Linked DNA regions of Homo sapiens. The protein of the gene in region 4 interacts with the protein of the main gene of each other region in a pairwise test. Each region holds a gene or a part of one and is shown on either strand. Other genes may lie near its edges.

Region 1 (3,891 bases), on a different chromosome or scaffold from region 4:
GCAGAGGGCAGGAAAGGGCTTTGAGCTGGGTGATCTGAACAGTTTAGACAAGGCCAGGTGAGGTGGCCGGGCAGCAGAGGGCACACATACCTTTGTGGGACAAGGGGATCTCCGACAGGTTCTCACTGCTGTCAGGGGAAGAGTTGATCCAGCTGCCCAGGCTGTCCTGAGCCGGGGCCTGTGGGGTGGAGTGGTTGGGAGGAGGAAACCCTTAAACACAGCAGGGACCCCATGCCCCACTCAGCAGAGACAGCGGGGCCTCAAGCTGGTGCCGTTTGGGAAAGGGTCCATCCCAACTGCTGCTGTCCACCCCCATGTCCCGCACCCGCTGCAGTGGAGCTCGTGGGGCCATCGGGTACTGAGAGCTCACCTCCTGCGTCACCAGGCTGCCGAGCTGGATGGGAGGTGGGGTGGGCACAGAGGAGCTTTTTGCCTGCCAGGCCCCAGTACCAGCCTTGAACACGTGGTGGCCTTCACTGAAGTTGGCAGAGGAAGATGAGTGGCTGTAGACCAGGCTATCTCACCGAGGTCCCACCCCCACCCCAGGGGAGAAGCTGTTGGTGTGAAAGGAGAGAGAACCCAGGAGTCCTGGCTCCAGACCTGGGCCACCTGCTCCCTCTCATTGCTGCTCTGTGTTCCCCATTTAGCCTTAGTCTGGGTTGGCCTCTCTGGGACAGGGCACAGGGTGGGGGCTGGGGCAGGTGGCCCCCATCTCACCTCTCTGTGCTGAGGGGAGGGAGGGCGCTGTTCTGCAGGTGCTGGGCATCAGAGCTCAATGTCTTCACACTCTCCAGGTCAGAATCTGGGGTCAGTGAGGTTCCTGCTGGGGTAATTTTGGGCAAGGAGCTGTCCTGGGGAGGAGGGAGCCAGGGTGGACAGTTAGAAGATTTGGTCCTGGACCAAATCAGCACAGAGTCACAAAGGCTTACAGGGTGACAAGGGCTGTAAGATGGCCTGGGAGCCCCAGAAGGGCAGTGGGCTTGTGTTTGGGTCCTCGGGGTTAAGCTGTGGTCTGCTAGGCTTCCCCAGTGGCACTGCCTGATGCTTGGTCTCCTGGGAGGGCAGCTGGAGCCATTTGTGATATCTCAGATGGCCAGCCCTGACCCTCAGACCCTGGGTGGGAGCAAGTGATGCCCAGGAGTGCCCAAGGAGGAGGGTCTTACTCAGGCTTGACAAGGCTTTGGGTGGGGTAAGAAGGAAAGGGAGTCAACTCCCTGGGGTGCCAGCCAGCCTGGTCCTGTCCCCTCCAGCTGCCTGAAGGCATTGCCTTGGTCATCAGCCCCTCCCTGGGCACATGTGCCCATGTTCAGGCCGCCCAGGCGCCCACCCACCTGCAGGGCCCTGGAGGCCACTTGGTCCATGATGGTGGCCTGCTCCAGGCTGCCCTCCTCCAGCTCCCGCAGGTACACTTCGTAGAGCTCTTCCAGGCGCTGCGGGACGGCCAGGTTGTAGTCTGCTGGGGAAGGGGCAGGGCTCAGTGAGTGCCAGCGGCCCCCCCGCGGGTGGCTCAGATGCGCGGGGGCGTGGGCCCTACCGTCGATGATCTGCCGCTGGCCCTGGATAATCTCGTCGCAGAGACTGCGGTGCTGCTCCAGGCGGCGCACGGCCTCGTGGCGGTGGCGGAGCGCACCGTCGCGGAGCAGCGCGTGCGACTGCATCTCGGTGTTCTCCACCTCGAGCTCGTGCACGCGGCACAGCAGGCTGAGCACCTCGCGCTGCTCCTCGGAGCCGATGCGCCGCGGCAGCGTCTCCTCCAGGCGCCGGCCCCGCGCGCGCAGCTCCCGGCAGCGCTGCTCCAGCGCCAGCTGCAGGAGGCGCAGGTCAGCATCTGGCAGCGGGGAGAGGGGTCCGATCCGCCTGCCCAGCTCGTCCTCGACCCTCCAGCGCCTGGACTCCAGGCATCTGTCTGGAGCTCCAGCCTGAGGCCAACCCTAAAAGCTGAATCTTGGGCCTTACAATCAGGGACTGCTCCAAGGTGGCCCCTCAGTGTCCACTTTCTTGCTATCCTGACCGCAAACCACCCCTGGAACCAGCTTGGGGGATAACTGCTCAACCCCAGCCCATGTGACCCCCTCAGGGCTCATGATACCCTAAAGCCCCTTTGGTCTGGGTATGTCCCAGAACAGAAGGCAAAGATCTGTTATTGGGAAAACCCTAATTATTATTATTATTTTTCTTTTTTGAGACAGGATCTCTCTCTGTCACCCAGGCTGGAGTGCGGTGGCGCTATCCCGGCTCCCTGCAACCTCTGCAGGGTTGCAAGTGATTCTTATTCCTCTGCCATCCGAGTAGCTGGGATTACAGGCGTGAGCCACCACACTAGGCTTTTTTTTTTTTTTTTTTGTATTTTTAGTAAAGACGGGATTTCGCCATGTTGGCCAGGCTGGTCTCGAACTCCTGGCCTCAAGTGATCTGCCTACCTCAACTTCCCAACGTGCTGAGATTACAGGTGTGAGTCACTGTGCCCAGCCTGAAAAACCCTAATTATAACATTAGTTACCATTTTTTGAGTCCTTGGTATGTGCCAGGCATTTATGTAATCTTCCCAGCAACCCCATGAGGGCTGCACCATGGACTGCTCCCATTTTACAGGTGGGGAATGTGACGCATAGAGAAGTTAAAGAGCTTAGCAAAGTCACACAGGATTTGTGGCCTGAGTTCCCAAGTCTCACGGCTACCCCCACCCTGGCCCCTCCGCCTTGCCTCTCAAACCTGCTCACCCTGTCCCCTAAACCCACTCTCCTTGTCCCCCCAAACCCTGGACACCTTCTGCTTGCGCAGTTGCTTCTGCTCGTCCACCAGGGCTGCAATGCTCTCCCGGGCTGCGGCCACCTCGGGTGGCTCCAGGATGTCTGGTTGGTCATCACCTGTGTCTGAGTCCTTCTCGCTGTCGTCCTTAGCGTAGCACTCCTTTCGCTGCTCCTCCCGCCATTTGAGGGCCCGGCGGGACTTCTCATGCTTCCAGCTGCCGCAGCCCCACCCAGAGAGACAGGGCATTCAGGCCATGGGGGCAGGGCACACTGTACAGCCACAGGTCGTGCTCCTCTGTCCCAGGCACAGGGGTGGGGCCTGGAGGGTCCTGGGAGGGGGGCTTACCCGGCGATGGTGAGCAGGTGTCGGGAGGTGTCAATCTGGACCTCCATGGCGCGGTTCTCCAGCTCCAGCAGGCGCCTCCGCACATCCATCTGCTCCTGGAAGGCGCTGGCGAGCTGCTCCCGAAGCTGTCCCATGCCAGCCTTCTCACCCTGCCCGCTGTGCAGCTGGACCTCAGCTGCCGATGGGTGAGGGTGGGCAAGGTAGAGGAGGCGGCAAGTTCAGCTAGCAAAGCCTGGGCCCACCTGGGCCCCTCCCCTCCTTTTCTTCCCAACTCAGTGCTCCCACTTCCTGTCCAACTGCTTCCTCCAGGAAGACCCCCTAGATTACTACATCCTCCCAGACCCCACTCCCACATTGAGTCTTCAAGCTGTTGCCCAAAAGCAATTCCCAGCTCCTTGGTATGAACTGGGCTCCTGCTAACCCTTACAGCACCTCTGTGCCAACTATAAAAAGGTGCCCCTAGAAACTACCGTCTGTGGCCAGGCACAGTAGCTTACACCTGTAATCCCAGCACTTTGGGAGGCCTAGGCAGGCAGATCACCTGAGGTCGGGAGTTCGAGACCAGCCTGGCCAACATGGTGAAACCTCGTCTCTACTAAAAATACAAAAATTAGCCAGGTGTGGTGGCGGGCACCTGTAATCCCAGCTACTTGGGAGGCTGAGGCAGAAGAATCGCTTGAACCCGGGAGGCAGAGGTTGCAGTAAGCCTAGATCATGCCACTGCACTCCAGCCTGGGCAACAGAGCAAGACTCTGTCTCAAAAAAAAAAAAAAATCTTTACTGTCTGCCTCTCTC
Region 2 (4,344 bases), on a different chromosome or scaffold from region 4:
AGGAGGCTGAGGCAGGAGAATCACTTGAACCTGGAAGGCGGAGGTTGCAGTGAACCAAGATCGCGAGCCTGGGCAACAAGAGCGAAACTCTGTCTCAAAAAATAAATAAATAAATAAATAAAAATTAGCTGGGCGAGTTAGTCACGCCTGCGGTCCCAGCTACTCGAGAGCTGAGGCAGGATGATCAGCTGAGGCAGGAAGATTGCTTGAGCCTGGGAGGTTGAGGCTGCAGTGAGCCATGACTGTGCCACTGCACTCCATCCTGGGCAAAACAGCAAGACCGTGTGTTGAAAAAAAATTTTTTTTAACCTCTTTGTCATTATAAAGACAGACTGGCTTAGAGATCAAGACTGAAGTTGGGGCTTACACTGCCTTCTTCTAAATATACTTATGCCTAATTAATAGTCTGGTTACTTGGTTATTTGTTGGCAAATTCTTTTTGTGAATGGGCCTTAGCTTAATGGCAAGCAGAAATACTTATCAGGCATCCTGTGTGCCAGGTACTTTGCTTAATGTTTAGAGGATTTAACAATGAACAAGATACAGTCCTTTCCCTCAACACGCTCATAGTCTGCTTCTTACATTCTTGACCCACTTTGAATCTATAGGGGCATAAATAACCTGCTGTTACCTCAACAGCAGGCAGACAGCTGGTATGATATTTATTAGTAGAAGTTAGGGAATGGGTTGGGACATGGGGAAGGTTGGGCTGATTCCAGAGATAAAAACTACTATTGTAATTACTAGAGGAATAGGAAAATCATTAGAAGTATTATCAGTGGATAAGCACAAGGATCTTCCCCTTGCAGAGGATTATAGGAAGGAAGTTCTAGGATAGATTACAAGGAAAGATGTATTAGTGATATGCCATAATTATGGTATTTAACATTGTGGTTAAATCTGAAAAGTGCTCTTTAAAAAAATGTCATTCAGATCTTAAGGGCAGATTTTAATGTGTGATACAGATCAGTTCCTATTACAGTGAAGGACAAGAGACTGTTCAATTTCTTCTTTTTAGCCAGAATGGTAATGGTTTTGTCACAGCAATTTAACAAGGCTTCCATTTTGTAAGTTTTTCCAGCAGTATAAACATTTTAAGGACAATAGCTAGGTTCTTGGGATACTTGTCTGGAAACGAATATTTTGGTTAAAACATGTTTTGTTGATTTTTAAAAATAACAGCTTTATTGAGATATGTGTCTTATACCATATAATTCACCATTTAAAGTGTACTATTCAATGGTTTTTGGTTTATTCACAGAGTAGTATGTTGATGTGTTTGTGGTCAACCTGCCTTGCTCCCAAAAGAATTAAAGGAAACTATGATATCTCATTGCTTCTGATTTTGAAAATATTTGCTAGTCTTGACTTGCCAGTGGATATCTATATCATACATCATCCATAGGTGCTTTTGGTAACTAGAAGCAATTCTACATTTGTGGAGTAGGGTTTATCAATTAGACCTAGAAGGATTATCGGGAACATTATAATGAATGGCATGCTATTCCTCCTGTCATCATGTTCCCAGACACCATGGATAGCACCATGGTATCCATGCTATAGGATGGTCAAGATTACTTGAAGCTGGGTTTTTTTTTTTTTAATTTTTTATTTTTTTTGAGACAGGGTCTCACTGTGTCACCCAGGCTGGAGTGCAGTGAAATGAACATGGCTCACTGTAGCCTTTAACTCCTGGGCTCAAGCTGTCCTCCCACCTCAGCCTCGTGAGTAGCTGGGACCACAGCTATGCACCCAGCTAATTTTTAAATTTCTTCTAGAGATAGTCTCAGTATGTTGCCCAGGCTGGTCTTAAACTCCTGGACTCAAGTGATCCTCCTGCTTCCACCTCCCATAGTGTGGGATTACAGGCATGAGCCACCACACCCAGCCTATTTTATTTATTTATTTATTTATTTATTTATTTATTTATTTAGGTTCAGGGTCTCACTCTGTTGTCCAGGCTGAGGTGTAGTGGTGTGAACATGGCTCATTGCAGTATCGACCTCCCAGGTGCAAGCCATCCTCCCACCTCACCTTCCTGGGTAGCTGAATCTACAGGCATGTGCTACCAAACCCAGCTAATTTTTGTACTTTTTACAGAGACAGGATCTTGCTGTGTTGCCCAGGCTGATCTCTAACTCCTCAGGTCAAATGATTCTCCTGCCTCGGCCACTCAAAGTGTTGAGATTACAGACATGAGCCACCATGCCTGGCTTATTTTTAATTTTAAAAAAGTTTTAATTTTTTTGTTTACTTTTGTGTTTTGTTTTGTTTTTACCTGAAGCTGTTTGATTAGGAGGTTCCCATGTGTGCTGAGATGCTGAGTATTGTAACAGTGCAAAGACAATCTAAAATTCCACATTTGCAAAGCATGTTAACTTGCCTAGATGAAACAGCTCTTAAGGTCAGTAGATTGTATATGTGTAACTTTCCATTCCCAACATATCCTCTCATATATACAGGAGCCACATGGCCTAGATTTTTTCTGGGATAGATCCACTTTTATATTCTATGGCACTGTCTCTTCAAACTACTGATCTTGGAAATTCTAATATTTTCATGTCGAGACTGTATTTCTCAGACTGCTTCCAACATCTTAAAGAGGAACAGAAATCTCATCTCTGATCATGTGCCCTGACTTGGAGTTTGGCAAGGATGTTAGCTGTCCTCAAGTCTCCTGTCATGCCCTTTCCATTTGAATTTCCTCCTGGTGTTCCTAGGCCTGTTAACGACTTGCTGTTCTCCTAGTTCCGCAGCTTGGAAACCTCCGTATCTTTTTTCTTGTCTTTCACATTCGACTTCTTCTATATCAATTCTAATTTCAGTTGACATCCAGCTGATAGCTCAGATTTGGAACTCCCACTAGTACTCTTTTTCTCTGTCTTAATGTCCCAAACATGTTTCTGTCTTATTACGGTTACTGTATTTGTGTATATGTTTACCACTCCCACGATACTCTAAGCCCCCTGACATGCTGTTTTGTTTACCTCCTGTAGAGCCTAGCCCAGTGTTACACAGAATAGCTGCTCATTGAATATTTGTTGAATGAATACTTAAGCAGGGGAGGGATGGAATGAAAATAATGGTTTGGCATGATCAGTCCACTTGTAGGGACGAAGCAGGGTATAAAGATGTGGTTAAACAAGTAAACACATTTTCAGGCATGTTGAACAGGATGAGTAATAGAACTGGGAACCAGGGAGACCAGGAAACTTTCAGGAAACAAAATGTGAAGTGGTGAAGGTCTGGTGGACTGAGGCAGGGGCAGAAGGTGTGGGAAAGAAGAGGATAAATCCGAGAGACAGGTCTCTCCGAGATGGATTACATATAGGATGGGAAGGAGCAGGAGTAGTATGAAATAATGCCAGTAGCTCCAGACTTGGAAACTGAAAATTAATTCCTGTTTCATCACAAATTTTGACTGCCTCTGTGGAACTTGAATGCTACTAAGAAATACTTCTTTACATAGCTTGACAAAGCAAAATGCCCATTATTTCCTCTTGAAATTTGTTACTGTTTCTTGAAGTGTGAAAGTTTTGTGTATTGTCCAGAAAAGATTACAGAGAGATTCTGATTCTAATGAGAATTGCTGCTGCCACATATTTTAGATCTTCCTGGTACTTTTAGCTTTTTTTTTTTTTTTTTAAATAATGAAAGAGAACTGGAGGAAGCTTTATGAATGGGCTTCCAGGGATTTAACTGTAACCTCAGGGGAGGGGTGACAGGGAATGCTAACTCGTGTATGGGAGAATGTGGGAGAGGAGAGATGATCCGCCTTACTTCTTACCTCAGAAGGTAATTTAGTTTCTCTGTTTTTCATTTTATGATGAATTTTGCCTCCATTGGGAGAATTCAGGAGTACGTGGTCCACTAGAGGATAGACTTGGATGTATTTGTCTCCACTTCAGGCAATTCCCAGTGAAGTATGAGGTACTGTTGGAAGTCTAAACTTCTGATCTGTGGAGTAAGGTCTGGCCATAGACAAAATATTATGTGAGCAATTCCACTTCTTCCACCTCACCTGAAGGCATGTCCTCCATCCTACAGTGGTCTTCCTAGACTTATTCTATTTATCTTCCTAGGGAGTTTGTCCTTTTCTCCCCAGCACCACCCCACTCCCAATCTTTCATCAACTTTATTGAGGTATAATATACTTGAAAAGTCCCTCATTTTAAGTGTACAGTTTGATGAGTTTTGACACATATATTCTGTCATGTAACCACCGCCACAAACAAGATGCAGAACATTTCCATCACCCCAAAAGTTCCCTTGTGCTTTGTCTCTTATCTTCCCCAACATCTTCAGGGAGTTTACTGGAGTTATGCTTGCTCATTAGGGCAGAAG
Region 3 (4,344 bases), on a different chromosome or scaffold from region 4:
AGTCAGGGAAGGACTCTGAAGGTCCCAAGCAGCTGCTGAGGCCCCCAAGGAAGTGGTTCCAACCTTGGACCCCTAGGGGTCTGGATTTGCTGGTTAACAAGATAACCTGAGGGCAGGACCCCATAGGGGAATGCTACCTCCTGCCCTTCCACCTGCCCTGGTGTTCACGGTGGCCTGGTCCCTCCTTGCCGAGAGAGTGTCCTGGGTCAGGGACGCAGAGGACGCTCACAGACTCCAGCCCTTTGTTACCGAGAGGACACTTGGCAAGGTCCAGCGATGGTCCGGAGTCCACACACAGACTGGCGGCAGGGCAGGAGGGGGACAGTTCTGTTGTGCTTGGTTGGACAGTAAGAGGGTCTTGGCCAGTCCAGGGTGGGGGGCGGCAAACTCCATAAAGAACCAGAGGGTCTGGGCCCCGGCCACAGAGTCATCTGCCCAGCTCCTCTGCTGCTGGCCAGTGGGAGTGGCACGAGGTGGGGCTTTGTGCCAGTAAAACCACAGGCTGGATTTGCCTGCGGGCCATGGTCCCTGTCTAGGGCAGCAATTCTCAACCTTCTTGCTCTCAGGACCCCAAAGAGCTTTCATTGTATCTATTGATTTTTACCACATTAGCAATTAAAACTGAGAAATGGGCCGGGCACGGTGGCTCACGCCTGTAATCCCAGCACTTTGGGAGGCCGAGGCGGGTGGATCACCTGAGATCAGGAGTTCAAGACCAGCCTGGCCAACATGGTGAAACCTTGTCTACTAAAAATACAAAAAATTAGCCAGGCACAGTGGTGTGCACTGGTAGTCCCAGTTACTCGGGAGGCTGAGGCAGGAAAATCGCTTGAACCCAGGAGGCGGACGTTGCGGTGAGCCGAGATCGCGCCGCTGATTCCAGCCTGGGCGACAAGAGTGAGACTCCATCTCACACAAAAAAAAAATAACAAAAAAACTCAGAAATGCTAAGTGTACTTATTTGTTGAAGAAACTTGTTACATATTACTAACATCTTTTTTTTTTATGAGAAATACTTTTCCCATAACCAAAAAATTCAGTGAGCAGAATGGCCTTGCTTGAGGTTTTTGCAAATCTCTCGGGTGTCTGGCTTAGTGGGAGGCAGCTGGGCCCTCATACCTGCCTCCGCACTTCAGCTGTTTGACATAAACCCAGCTTCGTGTGAGTGAAAGGGAAGGGCCTGGGGACCCTCAGAGGTTCTCGGACCACACTTTGAGAACTCCTCGTCTGGAAGACAGGCCTGGGGATGCCATGTGGGGTGAGGGCTTACGGGCTTGGTGTCGCTTTGTGGAGAACCGCTGGTGTCTGAAGCGGGTGTCAGCCCCACTGCACCTTGGTGCTTCTGGGCTGTCCTGATGCCGAGGCCCACTTCCCAGCCATGCTGACTTTGCCTCTTTCCCCTCCCAGCAGAAAAATGGCTACAAACTTCCTAGCACATGAGAAGATCTGGTTCGACAAGTTCAAATATGACGACGCAGAAAGGAGATTCTACGAGCAGATGAACGGGCCTGTGGCAGGTGCCTCCCGCCAGGTGAGAGCTGCACGTGGGGCGGCTGGGCGGCTCTGCTGCCCGACAGGAGTGGCCGGGGCACACAAAGCGGATTCAGCCAGGCCAGGAAGGCAGAGGCACCCTGGCCCAGTGGCTCTGCTGTGGGTGCTGGGAGTGGGGTCTCGGGGCAGGCGGCCTTGGCCGGGCCCCCGGGCCGGGTCTGCTCAGGGCCCTCCTGCCGGCGCCTGTGCACTTGGTGTGGGGCCAGGCCTGGCACTCCTTCCCCCGCAGACATGGGCGCCTTTGCCTGTCGTCACAGCCTCAGGCATCTCCCGCTTTTCTGGCCCGCCAAGCTCTCGTTCTGTGCAGTACTTTCTTGCTGTCTCTATGTGAGGGTTCATGGGGTTTTTTGGTTTGTTTTTTAATTAAATTCTTTTTTAATAATAAAAAAAAGACTGGTTCTTTCTGCACTGTCTGCAGGAGAACGGCGCCAGCGTGATCCTCCGTGACATTGCGAGAGCCAGAGAGAACATCCAGAAATCCCTGGCTGGAGTGAGTACCCGCGGCCCACGGACCTGCGGGCTCCTGCTCGGCCAAGCAGCATGTCTGATTTTTCCTGATGCTGCTGGTTGTTTTGGCTTCACAGCAGAGTCAGGGCAGGGTGCACGGCGCTGTGCTCCTTGGGACGTGTGGCTCTGTGACCTCCATGCCCGGACTGCCACGGACAGTGTTCTTATTCTCGCGTCCCTTCCGTGCTTACCTCGTCTGCCGGCTGGCGGTCACACTGGCCGCTCCTGTGGGGCCGGCTGGGAGCTGAGTGGTGCCATTTGCAGGGTGTCCTGTGGGCACCTGGCATGAGAGCCTGTGCCTCCCTGCTTGCTCCCTGTGGCAGGACTGTGTGTCTGCTGGGCCTTCCCACATTCCCTCTTAGATCTTGCCTCACTGGGGAGAGAGAAGTGGTGGTTCTGCAAGGCGCAAGGAGTTCAGAGCCTAGAGTTGGCACCGTCTTGAGTTGGAGACCCAGAAGGAGCCCTGTATCCCTGCTTGGCCTCCAGGCCCCGGGCCAAGATCAGGAGTTGGAGGCAGTAGCTGTGGCCTGACAGGCTGGCTGGGGAAGGGGTGTCCTCCGGGAGGTGGCAGCCCTGGTGTTCCCGAGGAGTTGGGACTGCGTTCTCCCCGGGACGGGGTGGTGTCCTGGCCCCAAGAACGGGGTCAGTGTTTCTGTGGCTGCTGCTATGGCTTTCCACAGCCTCACGCTGGAAACAGTACATCTGTATCATGCCGGGTTTCCAGGCCAGAAATCTGAAATGTGTCTCACGAGGCTGTCCCCAGTGTCAGCAAGGTCGCCATCCTTCCAAAGGCTCAGGAGGAGTCTGTTCCTTTGCCTCTCCCAGATTCTGGTGGATGCCCACGTTGCTTGTTTCAAGGTGCTCAGCAGGCAGCCTCATCCCCGCCCCGCCTCCACTTCCATCTCGCGCCTCTCTCGAACCTCCTGCCTCGCTCTGTCACTTACGTGGTTCTTGTACTTGCTTTGGGCCCCCAGGATCCCAGGTCCAGGATGTTCCCACCTCAAAATCCTGAATTTAATCGTGTTTGCCAATTCTTCTTTTTGCCATGTAAGGTAGTGGATTTGCAGGCTCTGGGGGTTGGGACGTGGGCGCCGGAGATTCTCATTGTCTCATTTGTAAGGTGCATTGCTCCTCACCAACATCTGCAGAAGCCTGGGTCCCCCACAGTGTCCCTCCAAAGTCCAGAATCCCATCCAATCAGGCATGGGGGATTGCGTGGTCCATCCTGAGGCAAAATTCCTCTCCATCTGTGGACCAGTGAAACTGGAAAGCAAGTTATCTGCTCCCAAAATACAATTGTGGGACAGGCATTCCCTTTCAAAATGGGAAAAAGAAGAAGGAAACAGGGCGTCACTAGTCCCAGGCAGTTTCACAGTCCAGCCCGGCGGGTCACGTGAGGTTTGAAGGGAGCGCTCCTGTGTGGCCCATGGTCCCCCCCGCTGTCATTTTTTAACATCCCTATTCCTACCAACAGCATGTTCGTGGCAGTTTAGGTTGTTCTAGAAGATGACGTGTTTTCTCTGCCCTGCTCCTCACCTCCTCTGAGTCCTCACCGAGGGCCTTAGCATCTGAATTCTGCCAACAGGGTGCTCAAGACAGGCTAGGGTTTTTCTTTTGGAGGGGGTGGGTGAGTTGTGGACAGAGTCTTGCTCTGTCGCCCAGGCTGGAGTACAGTGGCATGATCCTGGCTCACTGCAACCTCAGCCTCTGGGGTTCAAGCGATTCTCCTGTGTCAGCCTCCCGAGTAGCTGAGACTGCAGGTGTCTGCCACCAAGCCCAGCTGACATTTTTTTTTCTTTTTTTTTTTTTTTTTAGTAGCGGCAGGGTTTCGCCATGTTGGCCAGGCTGGTCTTGAACTCCTGACCTTATGATCTGCCCACCTCGGCCTCTCAAAGTGCTGGGATTACAGGCGTGAGCCACTGTGCCCGGCCCAGTCTAGGGGTTTTCTGTCACGCTCCTCAAAATTCTTCCCGCCTCACCACTGCCCAACTCCAAAGCCATCTCCACATTGTTAGGCATTCCAGCAGCACCCCACTTCCTGGGCCAGGATCTGTGTTGGTTTCCACTTGATGTTGCTGTAACGTTGCCACACTTCCGTGGCTTAAAACAGCACAAGTTCCTCACCTTACAGTTCCGGGGGCCAGAAGTCTGAGATCATCTTATGGGGCAAAATCAAGGCTGTGGTCCTTCTGGTGTCTCTGCGGGGAGAATCCGCTTCCTTGTCTCTTCTGGCTGCTGGAAGCTGCTCACGGTCCTTGGCCCAAGGCTCCCAGGCAGCTGTCTTGT
Region 4 (4,000 bases):
ACAAGTGTGATTGCAGAGGCCTACTATCATAAGGAGGCGTGGTGGTCAAACAATGGCACTGAACTCAGCTTGATCAGATCATTTGTCCATCTGTTTTTTTCTCCACTGTCTCTTAGAGCAGAATAGCCTTGAATGGCAAGCCATGCTAGCTGAAAAAGGTTTTTACCCACAACCTGCCCCTTCAACTAACTGCTTTAGAGTACGTTTGCTATTTTTAGAATTCCTCTTATTGGAACCCAGCTTCTAATGTGGAAAATTTAAGTATAGTTGGCTCCTTTTATTTGTGGGTTCTGTATCCTCTGATTCAACCAACTGCAGGTTCAAAATACTAAAAATAAAACCCCACAATAAAAAAATACAGTATTAGCAACTATTTACATAATGTTCACATTGTATTAGGTATCAAATAATCTGGAGATGATTTGAAGTACACAGGAGGATGTATGTAGACTATCTGCAAATAGCACATTGTTTTATAAGAGACTTAAGCATTCGCGGACTGTAATATCCAAGGGGGATCCTGGAACTAATCCCCCACACATGCCGAGGGATGACTGAAATTAGAAATGTTCAAGCATGTACAACTTTCTACCATGCCTGTTTGTGTTGGTATAAATCATGGAACATCAAATAATAAGACAAAATCCTCCAGGTGTAAGCATCAAATACTAGTCCTCTTGCTGTTTTAGTGAGTTGCCATGTTATTGAGGAGGACTCCAGATGAGAAATAACATTGCGATCTGTATTATCTCTGTGAGAGCCTCCCAGTCTGAATTTGGCTTGGACAACAGGGATACTGTTTAATTCGGCTGCAATGTGATTAAGATCTTTTGAGTTAATGATTTCTTCATCTTTTTAGTGGGCCATGGATTTGTGAGAACACATCTTTGGAAACAAGTAACACTAACTGTAATATAGTAAATACTGATTAATCATGAAATACCAATATAGCTTTTAAAAAACACTATGTAGATGTAAAGTTGATACAAAGACACATGGAAAACTTTCAACAGTATTAACTCTAAGATTAGGACAACTTTCTCTGAATCTCTCACTCCTACATATTTGACATAAGTAATGAGATGCTATGTACCAAGAACTATGGCTCAGTTAAAAATGAAGAAGGTTCAAATACAGTGTGGTGAAAATGGTGAAGTCATTTTTATTTCAGTACTTGACAAAATACCCCATAAAATTCAAAACTTCTACCATTATACAAAAATAGGTCTCTACAAGTGATATTATCTGTCTTCATCACCAGTAGAATATATTAGGCAAAACATGTAACTTCAGTAGCCTTATAAGAAAAGTGCAGGACACCTCGAGCTACACATTCAGCAGTATTGTAATGCGTAAAAGTTTAATCTTTTCACCCATTTGATAAATACACAAGGTTTATAATTTAATGTTTTAAATTAGCATTCCACAAATATACAGGTAATTCAATAATTATTGTGCATGAATACATACACAATGCTTATATATACAAATTCCAGTTTGTTTTCATGTGCTGGCAAGGGATTTGTATACAATCATAAGCTGTGTTCATATTGGTCCCATTGAATATTCACAATACAAAAGCACAAAAGAACCATTGATTTACAAAAGGAAATCTATTTAAAATCACTTCAATTAATGATGTTTCAAAGGATTATCTTCTCATGCCAGCATGAAATTGAGTAGTTGAACCTATGAGAGAAAAACAGGAAATTCAACTGATTTCAAATTACATTGCTACCTGTATCAGACCCACCAGAGTTCACACAAAGGAAATTATTATTATTCTCCATTTTTTTAAAGCCCTTTTTTTCCTTAAAATGTCCTCTTCATACTTAAACTGAGTCTCTCCCCACTACCCCCAAGGTGGAGTGTTACTCTGTTGCCCAGGCTGGAATTCAGTGGTGTGATCTTGGCTCACTGCAACCCCCGCCTCCTGGGTTCAAGTGATTCTCCTGCCTCAGCCTCCTGAGTAGCTGGGACTATCCACACATGCCACCATGTCCAGCAAATTTTTGTATTTTTAGTGGAGACGGGGTTTCACCATGTTGGCCAGGCTAGTCTCGAACTGGTTGGTCTTGAACTCCTGACCTAGTGATCCGCCTGCCTCGGCCGCCCAAAGTGCTGGGATTACAGGCATGAGCCACCGCGCCCAGCCCATATACTTAAGCTGACTTTTAAGAGATTTTGAATATATATGTAAAAATCACCATGACTGGCTCTATGGCAAGGTAGGTGAGACTAATATTTAGAGTTTTTTTAAAGTGCTCTCAAAGTTGGATGTTCTATACCTCATACATTTTTGAAAAATCTTTTGGTCTTCAAAATCTGGGTCTTGTGAAATTTGGATGCTCAAAACAAAACAAGCCTAGGCAAACCAACAAACTCAGCTATGATAATAAAAGTTTCCTATTACTACAAGATGCTTGGGTGTAAACAAATGATTTCTTGAAGGAAGAGATAAACTACTCAATGATTCAAAGTCTCTGAATCAGGAGTGAACTGAAGTGAGATAGGGAAAAGAGGTTTTCCTTCCATGAACAGGGAATCCACCTTTATTTTAAAGTATGACTTGTTTTTTGTTTTTGAACAAAGAAAAAATAATCCTTACAAAGTATTTTAAATGGGATAGTTTTTTTCGATGATACATAAAAGCACAATATAGTAGCAGGGATAATGGTTACATTAAGTGCTTAAAGTAAGTGCTTCCTCCTTAACTCCACCCGATTTGCATGCCTTACCACTTTCTTTTTTTTTTTTTTTTCTTTGAGACAGGGTCTCGCTCTGCTGCCCAGGCTGGAGTGCTGCGGCACGGCCTTACCACTTTCTGCCATGCGCTACTTAGGAATACGTTCTCCAGTTAGGCTCTGTAGACTCAGAGTACCTTGCACACTGGTGCTCATTGTGCATTTTGTGTCATCAGTCCGCTGAATGAACATAGTAGGAAATCATTTTTGGGAGGAGTGGGATCTGGGGTGATAAATCATATTTTCACTTAAATTATTTAAAGTCAGTTTCTCTGCTGGTTACAAGAGTTTAAGCTTTGGCTAACTTAATAATTAGCTCATGCACTAAACTGGAAGCTTTGATTATCCTAATGAGTGTGAAAGAATTTCAAAGAAAGGGGAGCTGTGGGTCTCGCACTGTGGTGCTGCCAAGATGTGGTTAAACTCAGAGCACCTGACTGTATAGTTCCAAGTCGTCTTTGCAGTGCCTCTAGCCGAGTGATATAATCTGTTAGGGCTCTGTCAGGATCGTAATTCTGAAGCTGAGAACATGCTAAAGAACCAGGATTGAAATCAGCTGGAGTGCCTGGGTACCTAAAGGATTAAAAATATGTACATGAATCAAGTTATCCAGAAATATGCATATAAGTTACCAACCTGCCTCCACTCCCTTCCCCAAAAAGGTGGGTCACTTGTACACACATAATGTATCTCCTCCAAGCTTCAGCTTTGGAGCTTGGGATGAGAAAGAGACAACTCTCCAATGAATTCAAAGATGCTACTAAGTCAACATAAGAATGTCCAATACAATGCTTGTGGCAGAGGTCTCAATAAATTGGGTATGTATAAATGTATCTTGTCATGAAGACTGTTAAGCTTTTCATAATGATCAGAGTATCAATTTTAGTCAATACTTTTCCCAATATCTAACCATAGCATACACTAAATAACACTTGGTCAGCTTGTTTGCTATACCCTTGGAAATCAGTTACAAATTTAAACACTGGTTTTTACATTTTTACATTAAGCCTTAGGTTATGTATATTTTTTTTCTTTTTTTTTTTTTTTGGAGACCAAATCTTGCTTTGTTGCCCAGGCTAGAGTGCAGTGGCGTGACCTCGGCTCACTGCAACCTCCACCTCCTGAGTTCAAGCGATTCTCCTGCCTCAGCCTCCTGAGTAGCTGGGATTACAGGCACCCACCACCATGCCTGGCTAATTTTTTTGTATTTTTTTTTGAGACAGAGTCTCGCTCCGTTGCCCAGGCCAGAGTGCAGT
Region 5 (4,344 bases), on a different chromosome or scaffold from region 4:
TGAGGTCAAGCGATCGAGATCATCCTGCCCACCATGGTGAAACCTCGTCTCTACTAAAAATACAAAACTTAGCGGGGCGTGGTAGTGCCTGCCTGTAGTCCCAGATACTCTGGAGGCTAAGGAAGGAGAATCGCTTAAACATGGGAGTTGGATGTTGCAGTGAGCCGAGATCCTGCCACTGCACTCCAGCCTGGCAAAAGAACGAGACTCCATCCAAAAAAAAAAAAAAGTAGCTTAAGAGTGTTGGTCAGTGATACATCCCAATGCAACCAGAATTGTTATGGGTACCACCTCACTGAATTCCACATTCAATGTTGGTGCCTCGGTAGGCTGGTATGCCAGATCTGGTACTGCTTTCTTTGCTGCCTGGATTAATTTCAGCAAACCATTTCTTTCCCTCTCCCTTCCCTGTATACATCTCCCCACACCATCTTGTTCAGCAGTGTTTTGTCCCCTCTGTATGTCTTTACATTTACTCTCCCAGCAGCTGTCTACGAGCTTATATGGGATCCCTTGTATTTTACGGAAACTCTTCCCTTTGTAGACCTTGTGAATTCTTAGAATGCTATGCTCCAAATCTTCTGTATACCAAACTCTCAATTACATGGAGATATTTGCTGTTTGCAAGAATGTCAGTCTTAAAACAGTGTGAAGATAAGAAGAATTCTATCCCTGGAAACCATATTCAGTTAGGCCATTCCTTTCCCATCTAACCTCCCCTCCCAGGTTTCTCCTAATTTAGGCAAGTGTAACTCTCCTAGCATTGTTGAGAACATTGATTAAGGTAATGCATGTGAAGATTCTTTGTAAGCTCTAAAGCACTAAAGAAATGTCACTGATACTGTTTATCTGTGACCTTCACATTATAAAGATCACGCCCGAGAAGCCAGCAGAGGAAGGAAATGATTCGAAGGGAGTGCCAGAAGCATCTGGCCCACAGAACAATGGGAAACAGCTGCGCCCCTCAGGAAAACTAAATACCTCTGAGAAGGTTAACAAGACATCTGGTAAGAGAAAAGAATTTGGGAACAACCACTCTGGCTTTTCTCGCTAAGTTCAGGTGTGTGGACTGGGTGTGTGGCATGGACCCCAGACAAGCCTGGGTCCAGGCTGGGCTGAGGAGCTCGCCCAGCTCCAGATGAGATGTTACACATGACTTCCAGAGACACAGACTGGAGTTGTCATTCATATAAAAAAACCACGTGACTTGGGGCAAGTCTTCCAAATTTTCTTAGCTCCAGTTTCCTAGTTTATAAGTTGGAAATAAAGAATCTCAGTTCATAAATTGTTTGGAGGCATTAAATTAAGTCTAGAAGGCCTGATGACATGAAAGGTGCTGAAGCAATTCCATCTGTGATTACCTGGGATCATATCTTACTCAGCTCAATGCCTGTTACCCGATATAGGTGTACTTCAGAGATATTGCATGTTCAGTTCCAGACCACTGCGATAAAGTGAGTCACACACATTTTTTTCTTGGTTTGGCAGTGCATAAAAACATTATGTTTACAATATACTGAAGTCTACTAAGTTTGCACTAGCATTGTGTCTCAAAATGTATATATCTTAATTTTAAAATAATTCATTGTATAAAATGCTAATAATCTTCTGCGACTTCAGTGAGTCACACTCTTTTTGCTGGTGGAGGATCCTGCCTGGGTGTTGATGGCTGCTGGCTGATCAAGGTGGTGGTTGCTGAAGGGTGGAGTGGCTGTGGCAGTTTCATAAAAGAAGACAACAATGAAATTTGCCACATCGATTAGCTCTTCCGTTCATGAATGCTTTCTCTGTAGTATGTGATGCTTTTGGATAGCATTTTACCCACAGTAGAACTTCTTTCAAAGTTGAAGTCAATGCTCTCTAGCTATGAAAGTCCTAGATGGCATCTCCTTCCAATAGAAGGCTATTTTATCTACATTGAAAATCTGTTGTTTAGTGTAGCCACCTTCATCAGTGATCTTAGCTAGATCTTCCGGATAACTTGCTGCAGCTTCTCCATCAGGGTTTGCTGCTTCACCTTGCACTTTTATGTTATGGAGACGGCTTCTTTCCTTAAACCTCATGAACCAACCTCTGCTAGCTTCACACGTTTCTCCTGCAGCTTCTTCACCTCTCTCAGAATTCATGGACTTGAAGAGAGTTTGGGTCTTGCCCTGAATTAGACTTTGGCTTAAGGGAATGTTGTGGCTGGTTTCGTCTTCTATCCTGACCACTTTCTCATTTAAGCAGTAAGGCAGTTTTGCTTTCTTATTCTTGTGTTCACTGGAGTATTAGTATTATTATTTTCTTCAAGAACTTTTCCTTTGCATTATATACTATTACTTCCTTCAAGAACTTTTCCTTTGCATTCACAGCTTGGCTGTTTGGTGCAAGAGGCTTAGCTTTCAGCCTGTCTTGGCTTTCAGCATGCTTCCTCACTAAGCTTAGCCATTTCTAGCTTCTGATTTAAAGTGAGAGACATGCGACTCTTCCTTTCATTTCAACACTTAGCGGCCATTGTAGGGTTGTTAATCTTCCTAATTTCGGTGTTGATATGTCTCAGGAAATACAGATGCCCAAGAAAAGGAAGAGAGGCAGGGAAGAGCTCATCGGTGGAGCAGTCAGAACACACACAATATTTGTCGATTAAGTTTGTCAACTTCTATGAGTGCAGTTCCTGTTACCCCCAGAATAATTACATACAACAGGGTGATTATAGTCAATAATAACTTAATTGTGCAGTATGAAAACTAAAAGAGTGTAAATGGATTGATTGTAACCAAGGATAAATGTTTGAGGGGATAGATCCCTTATTTTCCATGATGTGATTTTTACGCATTTGCATGCCTGTATCAAAACGTCTCATGTATCCCATAAGTATATACACCTACTGTGTACCCACAAAAATAAAAAACAGAAATTATTTTAAAAGACTAAAAAACAATAAAAACAATTGCAGTAATAATATCAAAGCTCACTGATCACAAATCACCATAACAGATATAATAATAATGGAAAAGTGTAAAATTGGTGAGAATTTCCAAAAAAAAAATTGCAACATCTGTGAAGCAGTATGAAAATGAGGTGCAATAAAACAAGGTACGCCTGTGTGGCCTTAATAAATACGTGCTGAATGAAAGGAGGTAAGGGTGAATGTTCCCGTAAGTGAAGAGGTTGGGAATCTAAACCTGACAACGGAAGGAGCCAGAAGCTAAAACTTTAATTTGCATTTGGCCTGTATTGGTGTGGGTCTAAGGTCTCAGCCTCTCTAAGCCAGAGAATGTGAAAAACTGGATAAAGAAGACCCATGGGCACTTGGTGGTGGGGAGGCATCTCCTTTTTTGGAGAAAACAGAGCCTAACACTCTCCAATCAACCCAACCCTCTCCAATCTACCCAACCCTCATCTTCCAACTCTTCTCCATCATAGGACCCAAAAGGGGGAAACATGCCTGGACCCACAGAGTGCGTGAGAGAAAGCAACTGGTGATTTATGAAGAGATCAGCGACCCTCAGGAAGATGACGAGTAACTCCGTAAGTGAACCTTTGGCTCATCTCCCACATCCTTGCAGATGTGCTATTCTGTTATGGTACTGGTATCCCATCTTATCAGTTGTTCCCCAAATCATTCCCTTCTCATAATTTTCTAGGGTACAGCATTGAGGCTGAATGATGAAATTTCCCATGTTTTTTTTTGTGGGTGGGGGAGTCTCCTTTTGTTCCCCCAGGCTGGAGTGCAGTGGCATGATCTCGGCTCACTGCAAGCTCCGCCTCCCGTGTTCACGCCATTCTCCTGCCTCAGCCTCCCCAGTAGCTGGGGCTACAAGCACCCGCCACCACGACCGGGTAATTTTTTTTCTTGTATTTTTAGTAGAGACAGGGTTTCGCCATGTCAGCCAGAATGGTCTCAATCTCCTGACCTCGTGATCCATCTGCCTCCGCCTCCCAAAGTGTTGTGACTACAGGCGTGAGCCTCTGCGCCTGCCTAACCATGCTCTTTCTACTCCCTGCCCTCTATATCCAGGGATCCTCCCTACCCAGGATGCTGTGGGTTCCCAAACCCCAGGTCAGCACTGATATGCGGGCCACACCTTCCTCTAGCCTAGGAATTGATAACCCAGGCGAGGAAGTCACTGTGGTATGAGCAGATGGTTCACTTCAAGGAACCATGGAAGGCGTGTACAGGTCCTGAGGTAGGGCAGAATCGGAGTGGGCAGGGTCTGCAGGTCAGGAGGAGTTGAGATTGAGTTGTCATGTGGTGGGAACTCACTGCCACTTACTTTCCTTCTCGCTTCTTGCCTCAGCCTCGGGGATATGACACATGCCCATGATGAGAAGCAGAACGTGGTGACCTTTCACGAACAT
Region 6 (4,344 bases), on a different chromosome or scaffold from region 4:
CGGAGATACTGCAGCATACAGAACACAGCGAGATACACTGCAGAATACAATTAAACTCAAAATACAGTGAAATAGAATAGGGGATGCAGAAGAGAGGATTCGGTTTCTGGGGCAATGATCTTTATTTGGTGAGGTTGAATGGGATTTACCTAGAGCAAATAAGAATTGTCTGCTATCACTTAAGGAGCTGATGTAGTAATTAGCAATGATAAGTTTCACTGGTCAAGATCAGGGAACCAAGAAGCCAGGGTATTTGTAGGACTGTCTTAAGTGGATATTGAAATAATCAAGAATGATGACAGGGTGGTGGTAAAGAGAGCAACAGTGAGCCAAAACCTAAAATTCTTGAGCAATGAGAAGGAGTAAAAGAGGGTAATGTAGGGACTTGGGAGGCTGATGTCAACAGCTTCAAAACAATGAGTGTTCAGGAGGAGGAAAGGAGAATAGTTTGGAAGTGGCAATGAGGAACAAGGAGGCATCCTACGATTAATGTTTTATTATTCATATTTTGACAAAGATAGCATATTATATTCCAGGACATGGTAGTTACCATGTGGGGAAACCTATCAAAGCATTTTTAATGACTGCTTAGAATAACTGTAGAAAGTACTTTCTCAATGATTTTTGTATGCAAGAAAAAAAATACCTGAAAGTAACCAAAAGTTTCAGACTGGAAAATATGCCAGGAAGATTTTCTTCTCTCATTCTCAGGTGAGGTTATAATCCAGTTTTAGCAAATGTTTGACAATTTAAAATACTTTTGAAAACTGGAGATTTAAAAAATGTAAACAATTGTAGGCACAGCAAAATCGTAGTTTTCCCTTCTGATATTATACATTTGGCATCTCTCTACAGTTATATTAACATAAATAAGGCAGCTAAAACGTTCAAAAATAGTTTTACAACATTCAATTTTAAAATTTCATTCAAGCTGTAATCTTTTGTTTCCTGCTGCCACCTAACATTTGAAGTTTTGATTCAGGGTAATGTCCAAGGTTTCTTAAACATACCATAATAAGTATTACTATTCCTTAACATTTATCCCAGGGGAAGAGATAAGGGAAAGGGGTAGCTGGGCATGATATTTACAGTGTACAAATAATGATCCATTGCCAGAAATGAAAACTCACCTTTCCACCAGCATTTGCTCAGCCTCAATAGTGCAATGCAACTTGGTGCTGATAAAAATAAACCATTAAAACCAAACCCTATCATGCAAGGAGTGAGTTTGAAGATATGTACACAAACTCAAAAATCTGTAAACTTTAGGACATTTTTATTTTTAACTGTATTTTCTACTTTTCATCCAAACATTTGTCATCATGGACTCAGAAGAATCCAAGATTTTGATCTAGATTTAAAATAACTCAAACATTACCCAGGGATTTTTGTTTAAAAATGCTTTTATGGGGATTTTTATTTTGGTATATTCTGGCACTTCCTGGAATGGCAGGTCTAGAAGAATAAAGTCCAAAGCACAGGGTTATGATCTCACACTGTTTAATGCTAAGCAAACTGTTGAATATTCTAGTTATCAATGGAAGAATTCCCAGAATAATGGTGTAGAAATAAAAACAACCTAGAAAATGTTTGGTAGGAATATACAAATTGTCAGTTTTGAACTTGCAAATTCTCAAGAGGTTTTCTTCTTTGCTGGGACTCCTGAAAAGTGATCAATTTTACACCCAATTTATTTAAGATCCATGAAAGGACAGCTTACTTTAGGGTTCCTGATATATAGTGACCAAGGAGATATAGTGGCATTTATGAGAAATATTAGCAGGTAAATTAAATCAAATTTAGACTTTTGGATTTTAGATTTATGTTACAACTATGTAGTCTCAGGGGAGGTCAGTTTTTGGTTGGTTGGTTATGTTTTGCTTGATTTGGTTAGATTTAAATTTTGAAGAATGAACTAAAAGGTAACTAACAAGTTAGAGACTGTTGAAATGATCAGAACATGGTACCAGTGGTGATTCTGGAATATAAAGAGCATAGTAGCATCATTCAGAATTGTTATCAGCATGCTGTGGATTTTCTCATGTTTTCCTGCAGTAGGTTAAAATTAAAAGTTTTATCAATAACTATTTTTTTTCTTAAAAATAATGTAGCACATCTTACATCTTAAAGCAATCAGCACAAATGCAAGTGATGCCTGTTCAAGCAGACTTTCAAAGACAGCACACACTGTTAACACAAAGAGCTCTTCCACGTTTCAAGAATACAGTGACGGGAACTGGTACACATAGTAGTAGGGAAAGCATTTTTTTAAAAGCTTCGTGGAATGTGAGACTTTAGCCCCTTCCTTTCCTGGCAGTGGATAAAACCAAAATGGTTCTGGCTGGAATTTCACATCTTTCTAATAATCTACTGGACAGGAGGGACCAGAGACACCAATTACCAATGAGTCACAAGAACAGACAAAAATTGTTAGTAGGTTTTGACAACCAGGAACTAAGGTGTTTTTAAAAAACATGTACTTGATGCAAAGTATATTAGGAGTGCACCCTAGAAAACAATGTCAAAGTGTTAGAAAAATGGAGCCCCTGTCCAGGTGACCTTGTGAGATTTCACCCATAACTTAATATACCCTGTTTAATAAAAATAATAGTTCTAGGTCTTCTTGAAGGATTGTTTAGAAGTCTCCAAGAAAAATAATGAGATCTATCTAAAATAGAGCTGTTCAATTTTATGTGGAACTTAGTGAAGGCTGTCTTCATTTGCATTGTGTGTTATGACAGTGGTCTGGCTGGAACTGGCAGGGGGAAGAGCCTCATTATTTGAAGGAACTTCACTGGTCATCCATTCCTACCACCACTGGATGCAGGAATCCATGCTACAGTATCTTTGACTGGCACCCAGGAATGATGGTCACCTGCCAGACCCCAGACCCAGACTATGGTGTGGGCAGGCTCAGTAGATTTTACTGGATGATTATTAATTTAGAGCAGTAAGAACTGGCAGATCTAGTGAAACTTACTCTGAGGGGAGGGCTCAGTTTCTCCAGTTTCTCTTTGTAGGAAAATAAAAATAAAATGAGCCAATTTCTAGAGACAAAATCACCTATAAAAAGATCAGAACTGAAGATTTTTTTTGTTGAGATGCTATAAAAATGGATGAAAAGCAACCGTTCCTCCCCTACCCCCAAAAAGAATTAAGGCAATTCAGAAAGTTTGGATGAGCCACAAGGACACCATTCTGACGTATTCTGCATGTTCTAGGCCTCCTTATGTCAGGGCTGGGGTCTGTCTTGCTGGAGGAAAATTTATTTTTGAAGATAAAAGCTTCAGTGAATTCTTTAAATATCTGTCTTTTAAAGAGCACAGATTTCTGGGGGGCCCATTTAAATTTGGATTTGCCTTGTACTCAGTGTAAAATATTAGTACAAAAATATAAAAGGCATGGCTTGATGTTTAACGTGTGTTTTATTGTTGTTGGCACCAGAAAAGCTCATGTTCTATGTTATGTCACTGTACATACTGTAAACAAGACTGCATTAATATTGTTTTCTTATGATTTGTTTCAATGACTCTAGATTTTAAAAAATACATTCACAAACTACCTTATGTTTAAACACAATGATTCCCTTTTATTTCTTAACTGTACCCAAAATCCCACAATAAAAAAATCATTTAAAGCTGTGTGTTTCAAACTTATCACTTAGAAATAAAAACAAAACAAAACATAAAAACAAAGATCAGTTTGCAACATAATTTAAAGAAGCTTCTGGTTTAAAATACCACAGCAGCAATATAAAGAGCTGGTGGCAATCACATTCGGGAGTGAAATCGAAATCAATATATTTTGTCCACATCAGCATCCAATTACAGTAGTTGTTAAATTCAATCCAAAAAGTTATTGCTGAATTTGTGGCATGGAATTTGAGAAGATAGTATTGTTCAGCAGCACAACCACAGCAGTAAAAATGAGAACAGGAGGATTTCATTGCTTTTGAGAGCTAAAGGGACCATGAGGAGGATATCTTGCTGATTGCCTGAAGATAATCCTCAGTTACATTCCTGCATATTACCTGCTTTAAATAAATGCAAATGACAACCACCTTTTCAGGAGGGGCATAATAATGTAATCCAGAAACTAGAATGTTTCCCCTTCTCTTCCCCATCTTGCCCAAACCACTAGATTGAAATGGCTCCATTTTCCTAATGTGTATTTCGTTCTCATTAATAGTACATCAGCTGCTTGTGTATTTAGGCAAAGTCAGTAAGATCGTAGTTTTTTTTGTTGTTGTTGTTCCATTTACAGTAATTATTTTCTCCAGAAACAAGCCACATTAGTTTTTGTCATTGGATTCCCCCCACTTCCAATTTTTTAAGAAGAAAAATT
Region 7 (4,344 bases), on a different chromosome or scaffold from region 4:
GCACACATATATTCATTGCAGCACTATTCACAATAGCAATAACATGGAATCCACCTAGATGCCCATCAATAGCAGACTGGATAAAGAAAATGTACATGTACACCATGGAATACTACATAGCCATAAAAAAGAATGAAATCATGTCCTTTGCAGCAACATAGGTGTAGCTGGAGGCCATTGTTCTAAGCAAATTAATGCAGGACTAGAAAACCAGATACTGCATGTTCTTTCTTATAAGTGGGAGCTAACCACTGAGTACACATGGACACAAAGAAGGGAACAATAGACCCCGGAGTCCACTTGAGATTAGAGGGTGGGTGGAAGGTGAGGATCGAAAAACTACCTATCGGGTATTATGCCCGCTACCTGGGTGATGAAATAACCTGTACACCAAACCCCCACGACATGCAATCTACTTATATAACAAACCTGCACGACGTATCCCCTGCTGAACCTAAAAGTTGGAACAAAAAGAAAGCCCCCCTTTTCACAACCCCAGATTATGTCCTACAAATTAATCATCTTAATCCTTTTTCTTTCTGTTACTCAGACTGGATAATTTCTATTAATCTATCTGCAGATTCACAGCTCCTTTCTTTTCATTTTCCAATATGCTTTTAAGCCTACGCACATGGTGATGTTTTCATTTCAGATAACTGTTCTTTTCAGCTCTGAATTTCAATTTGGTTCATGTGTGTGTGTGTGCGCGCGTGTGTGTGTGCGTGTATTTCATTTCTCTGCTGAGATTCCCTATGGTGATGATACATGGAATTTACTGGTCTTATCCTGTTCCCCACCGTCCTGTCCTGAAGCAGCTGGCTTGCCAGACTGGTGGAGTGGCCTGTTGAAGACTCAGTTACAGCACCAGCTAGGTGGCAATACCTTGTGGGGCTGGGACAAGGTTCTCCCAGGCTGTATAAGCTCTGAATCAGCATCCAGCATACAGTGCAGTTTCTTCCATAGCCAGAATTCATGGGTCCAGGAACCAAGAGTTGGAAATGGGAATGGCGCCGCTCACTGTAACCTCTAGTGATCCACTAGTGGGGAGTCTGGATTAAATTATGTTCCTTTAAAGGGTGTTAAATTTTGTTCTGATAGGCAGATAAATTATGGTGGATCTTCTGGTCCTGTCAGACTTGATTTTATCATTTCTTTCGGCAATTCTGTTTTGTTGTTTGTCCTTAGTCCTAGCTAAGGTCCTGGCTCAAACTTAGGCATGGTTCTCACTCATGAGGCATTGTTTTCTGGAGTCTCAGATGAATGCTGAGGTGTTCTGCAGGGTCTCTACACACTGGGCCAGAATTCTTTTTTTTTTTTTTTTGAGACAGAATCTCACTCCATCGCCCAGGCTGGAGTCCAGTGGCACAATCTCGGCTCACTATAGCCTCTGCCTTCCAGGTTCAAGCCATTCTCCTGCCTCAGCCTCCTGAGTAGCTGGGATTACAGGTGTGTGCCACCACACCCGGCTAATTTTTGTATTTTTAGTAGAGACAGGGTTTCACCATGTTGGCCAGGCTGGTCTCGAACTCCCGACCTCAAGTGATCTGCCTGCCTCAGCCTCCCAAAGTGTTGGGATTACAGGCGTGAGCCACCACACCTAGCCTGAATTCTTATTAGCAACACTGTGTGAAGTCTCGGCTCTCAGCCAAGGATCCCCAGGGGATCCGTGTGTAGACTTCGGCCCAGCCCACTTTCCTCCAGTGCCTGTCCTACAAAGGCCAGCTGCTTCATCATTCCTCAACTTTAATCTCTTCCTGTGCAGCTCCATGAGACCTCCGCATGCTGCTTGCCTCCCACCATTCTGTACAGTGAGCTAGAAAGTAACCCATGCACAAAACTGAGGCACATCTTATGTCTTTCCGTTACCAAGGATCAGGGTCCTGCATTGCCTGTACCTTAATGCCTGAGTGCAGTTGCCTCATACATATTTTTTTTTTCCAGCTTTATCCATGTTAACAGTGGGAAGACTAGACCAGTACCAGTTACTCCATTTGGGCCAAAACCAAACTCAAATTCTTTATTTTTTAAATTTATTTATTTATTTATTTTTAACACGGAGTTTCACTCTTGTTGCCCAGACTGGAGTGCAGTGGCGCAATCTCGGCTCACCGCACCCTCCGTCTCCCAGGTTCAAGCGATTCTCCTGCCTCAGCCTCCTTAGTAGCTGGGATTACAGGCATGTGCCACCACGCCCGGCTAATTTTGTATTTTTAGTAGAGACAGTGTTTCTCCACGTTGGTCAGCCTTGTCTCGAACTCCTGACCTCAGGTGATCTGCCCGCCTCGGCCTCCCAAAGTGCTGGGATTACAGGCATGAGCCACCATGCCTGGCCGATTTTTTTAATTTTTTGAGACTTTATTAGCTGGCGATTCTCACGTACTTCACTTAAAGAGATGATGATTGAAATTGTTTCTCAGGAAGGCAGAAACTATGGCATCTGAAAGGATTTTTTGGAAAATTTGGGGAAGGGTTTCAGTTTGTGTTTGGTATTTTCCTTCTCAACTCCCTCCTACTTGTCTTGTGCAACATCCAGTAGATCCCAGTAACACATTCCTAGTTGATAATATTTTAGATAATCTAATAAAGTAAATGGTTACATTCTGAATTTTTAAATGCCTTGTTGAAAGAAAGTTTTTTGAGGAAGGAGGTTAATGAGCATGGAGGTGATGGGGGGTCAGTGTTAACAGCCAGGACCACCGCCCACCCCGGCTGCTGCTGTTCTGCCACCCTGTCTCCACCAGCTCCCTAAGCACTCAGTGTTTTCACAATGGCAGGAGCAACAGGCGGTGGGGGTGGTTTGGTGCAGGGACAACTGTCCTCTTACGGGATCATTTGTTAACTAGGTATTTGCGAGGTCAAACTTGCTTTTATTTTAGGAGGCACACAAGAGTTTTATAAATTGGAAATCCCAGCTGCCTAGGGCTGAGTCAGGGAGGTACTTCCTGGAAAAACCGAAAATGATTCGTTCTTTTGTCTAAAACAATCAGGTCGGGCACGGTGGCTCACAGCTGTAATCCCAGCACTTTGGGAGGCTGAGGCAGGTGGATCACCTGAGCTCAGGAGTTCAAGACCAGCCTGACCAACATGGTGAAACCCCATCTCTACTAAAAATATAAAAATTAGCCAGGCGTGGTGGCGTGCATCCGTAGTCCCAGCTACTTGGGAGGCTGAGGCAGGAAAATCACTTGAACCTGGGAGGCAGAGGCTGCAGTGAGCCAAGATTGTGCCACTGCACTCCAGCCTGGGCGACAAAGTAAGACTCTGTCTCAATAAATAAATAAATAAATAAATAAAACAATCAACAGGCAACTCTATTCAATAAGTACAGTCATTACAAAAACCATACTCCATATTTTGGATATAAAGGGTGAAATACTTGAGGAATGGTGCGGAAGATACACCTATGCCACAGCAGGAGGCCTGGACAAAAGCACAGGGGACAGCATCAGGTCTGAAATCTCTCTGCTCCTCACATAAGCTATGACAGACCTCCACCTTACTGTCACCAATGGTTCTTTGAAAAGCTGCTTAACATAGTCCATTTATATTCATCACTAAGCCTTTGTAGGCCACACTCCAATGAAGACCCCTAAGGCTACGACATTAGTGATCACAACAGCCTTACCAACCTCCACTAATTCACTCAGCATTCACAAAATCAAGATTACATTGCTGTGTCACACGTGGTGCTCTGCTAGGCACTTTGGGAACTGTTAATATTAACACGTGCTCCCTACATGTAAGGAGTGTATAGACCGTAAGTTTGACAGGCTTTTGCTTTAAAACTGTATTTTGCAGATGTGTCCATTTGGCATACTTTTCTAACAGCCAGAGATGACTGGCTATTACAGTTCCTTACAACCTGAAGATTAAGGGGAAACAAGCGAAAGCCACAGTATGGTTGCTGAGAGGATTAGGTAGATTAATCCGTGGAAAGCACTGAGAACATGCTGTTACAGAGAAGCATTCAGATATTTGCTACTTATGTTTCTATTAAAATAATACAGGCAATTCTTATTTCCCTTTGCTCAGAAGAAAAATATGTAGATGTTTCATGTTTAATTTGGTTAATTGAATACATAGAATTTCTCCATGAAATATGTTCTCGGGTAAAACCTTTGATGATCTTTCATTATATACCACCACCAAAAATTACACTAAAATTGTGAAAGAACCTTGAATGGCCACTCTAAGTGAACTAAATGGAAGGGTATTTGATTGATTTACCCATTAAATTTCATATATATATATATATATTTATTTATTTATTTATTTTTTAAAATTTGAGACAGGGTCTCACTGTGTCACCAAGCTGCAGTACAGTGGCTCAGTCATGGCTCACTG

What was found.
Region 1: the proteins of AKAP9 (region 4) and KIF19 interact in a two-hybrid assay, tested with the Homo sapiens proteins (one large-scale study listed by BioGRID).
Region 2: the proteins of AKAP9 (region 4) and MYO5A interact in a two-hybrid assay, tested with the Homo sapiens proteins (one large-scale study listed by BioGRID).
Region 3: the proteins of AKAP9 (region 4) and EEF1D interact in binary tests that used the Homo sapiens proteins (3 or more experiments, as listed by UniProt).
Region 5: the proteins of AKAP9 (region 4) and SSX5 interact in a two-hybrid assay, tested with the Homo sapiens proteins (one large-scale study listed by BioGRID).
Region 6: the proteins of AKAP9 (region 4) and TNIK interact in a two-hybrid assay, tested with the Homo sapiens proteins (2 studies listed by BioGRID and IntAct).
Region 7: the proteins of AKAP9 (region 4) and SAMD3 interact in binary tests that used the Homo sapiens proteins (3 or more experiments, as listed by UniProt).

Annotation. Positions count from the first base shown.
Region 1 is NC_000017.11:74,349,781-74,353,671, reverse strand, and holds part of KIF19 (kinesin-like protein KIF19), read right to left. Parts: intron 3,272-3,891; coding exon 3,097-3,271; intron 2,966-3,096; coding exon 2,767-2,965; intron 1,806-2,766; coding exon 1,535-1,805; intron 1,457-1,534; coding exon of another isoform or gene 1,454-1,456; coding exon 1,332-1,453; intron 852-1,331; coding exon 718-851; intron 477-717; coding exon 371-476; intron 179-370; coding exon 91-178; intron 1-90. UniProt on the Homo sapiens protein: Plus end-directed microtubule-dependent motor protein that regulates the length of motile cilia by mediating depolymerization of microtubules at ciliary tips.
Region 2 is NC_000015.10:52,522,143-52,526,486, reverse strand, and holds part of MYO5A (unconventional myosin-Va), read left to right. Parts: intron 1-2,284; exon of another isoform or gene 2,285-2,305; coding exon of another isoform or gene 2,306-2,404; intron 2,405-4,344. UniProt on the Homo sapiens protein: Processive actin-based motor that can move in large steps approximating the 36-nm pseudo-repeat of the actin filament. Can hydrolyze ATP in the presence of actin, which is essential for its function as a motor protein. Involved in melanosome transport.
Region 3 is NC_000008.11:143,583,916-143,588,259, reverse strand, and holds part of EEF1D (elongation factor 1-delta), read left to right. Parts: intron 1-1,407; coding exon 1,408-1,531; intron 1,532-1,969; coding exon 1,970-2,041; intron 2,042-4,344.
Region 4 is NC_000007.14:92,107,811-92,111,810, reverse strand, and holds the end of AKAP9 (A-kinase anchor protein 9), read right to left. Parts: intron 3,318-4,000; coding exon 3,178-3,317; intron 1,690-3,177; coding exon 1,652-1,689; 3' UTR 1,138-1,651; downstream 1-1,137. UniProt on the Homo sapiens protein: Scaffolding protein that assembles several protein kinases and phosphatases on the centrosome and Golgi apparatus. Required to maintain the integrity of the Golgi apparatus. Required for microtubule nucleation at the cis-side of the Golgi apparatus.
Region 5 is NC_000023.11:48,186,796-48,191,139, reverse strand, and holds part of SSX5 (protein SSX5), read left to right. Parts: intron 1-871; coding exon 872-1,007; intron 1,008-3,408; coding exon 3,409-3,509; 3' UTR 3,510-3,513; intron 3,514-4,003; exon of another isoform or gene 4,004-4,060; intron 4,061-4,283; 3' UTR 4,284-4,344. UniProt on the Homo sapiens protein: Could act as a modulator of transcription.
Region 6 is NC_000003.12:171,057,933-171,062,276, forward strand, and holds the end of TNIK (TRAF2 and NCK-interacting protein kinase), read right to left. Parts: 3' UTR 482-4,344; downstream 1-481. UniProt on the Homo sapiens protein: Serine/threonine kinase that acts as an essential activator of the Wnt signaling pathway. Recruited to promoters of Wnt target genes and required to activate their expression. May act by phosphorylating TCF4/TCF7L2.
Region 7 is NC_000006.12:130,149,409-130,153,752, forward strand, and holds part of SAMD3 (sterile alpha motif domain-containing protein 3), read right to left. Parts: intron 1-4,344.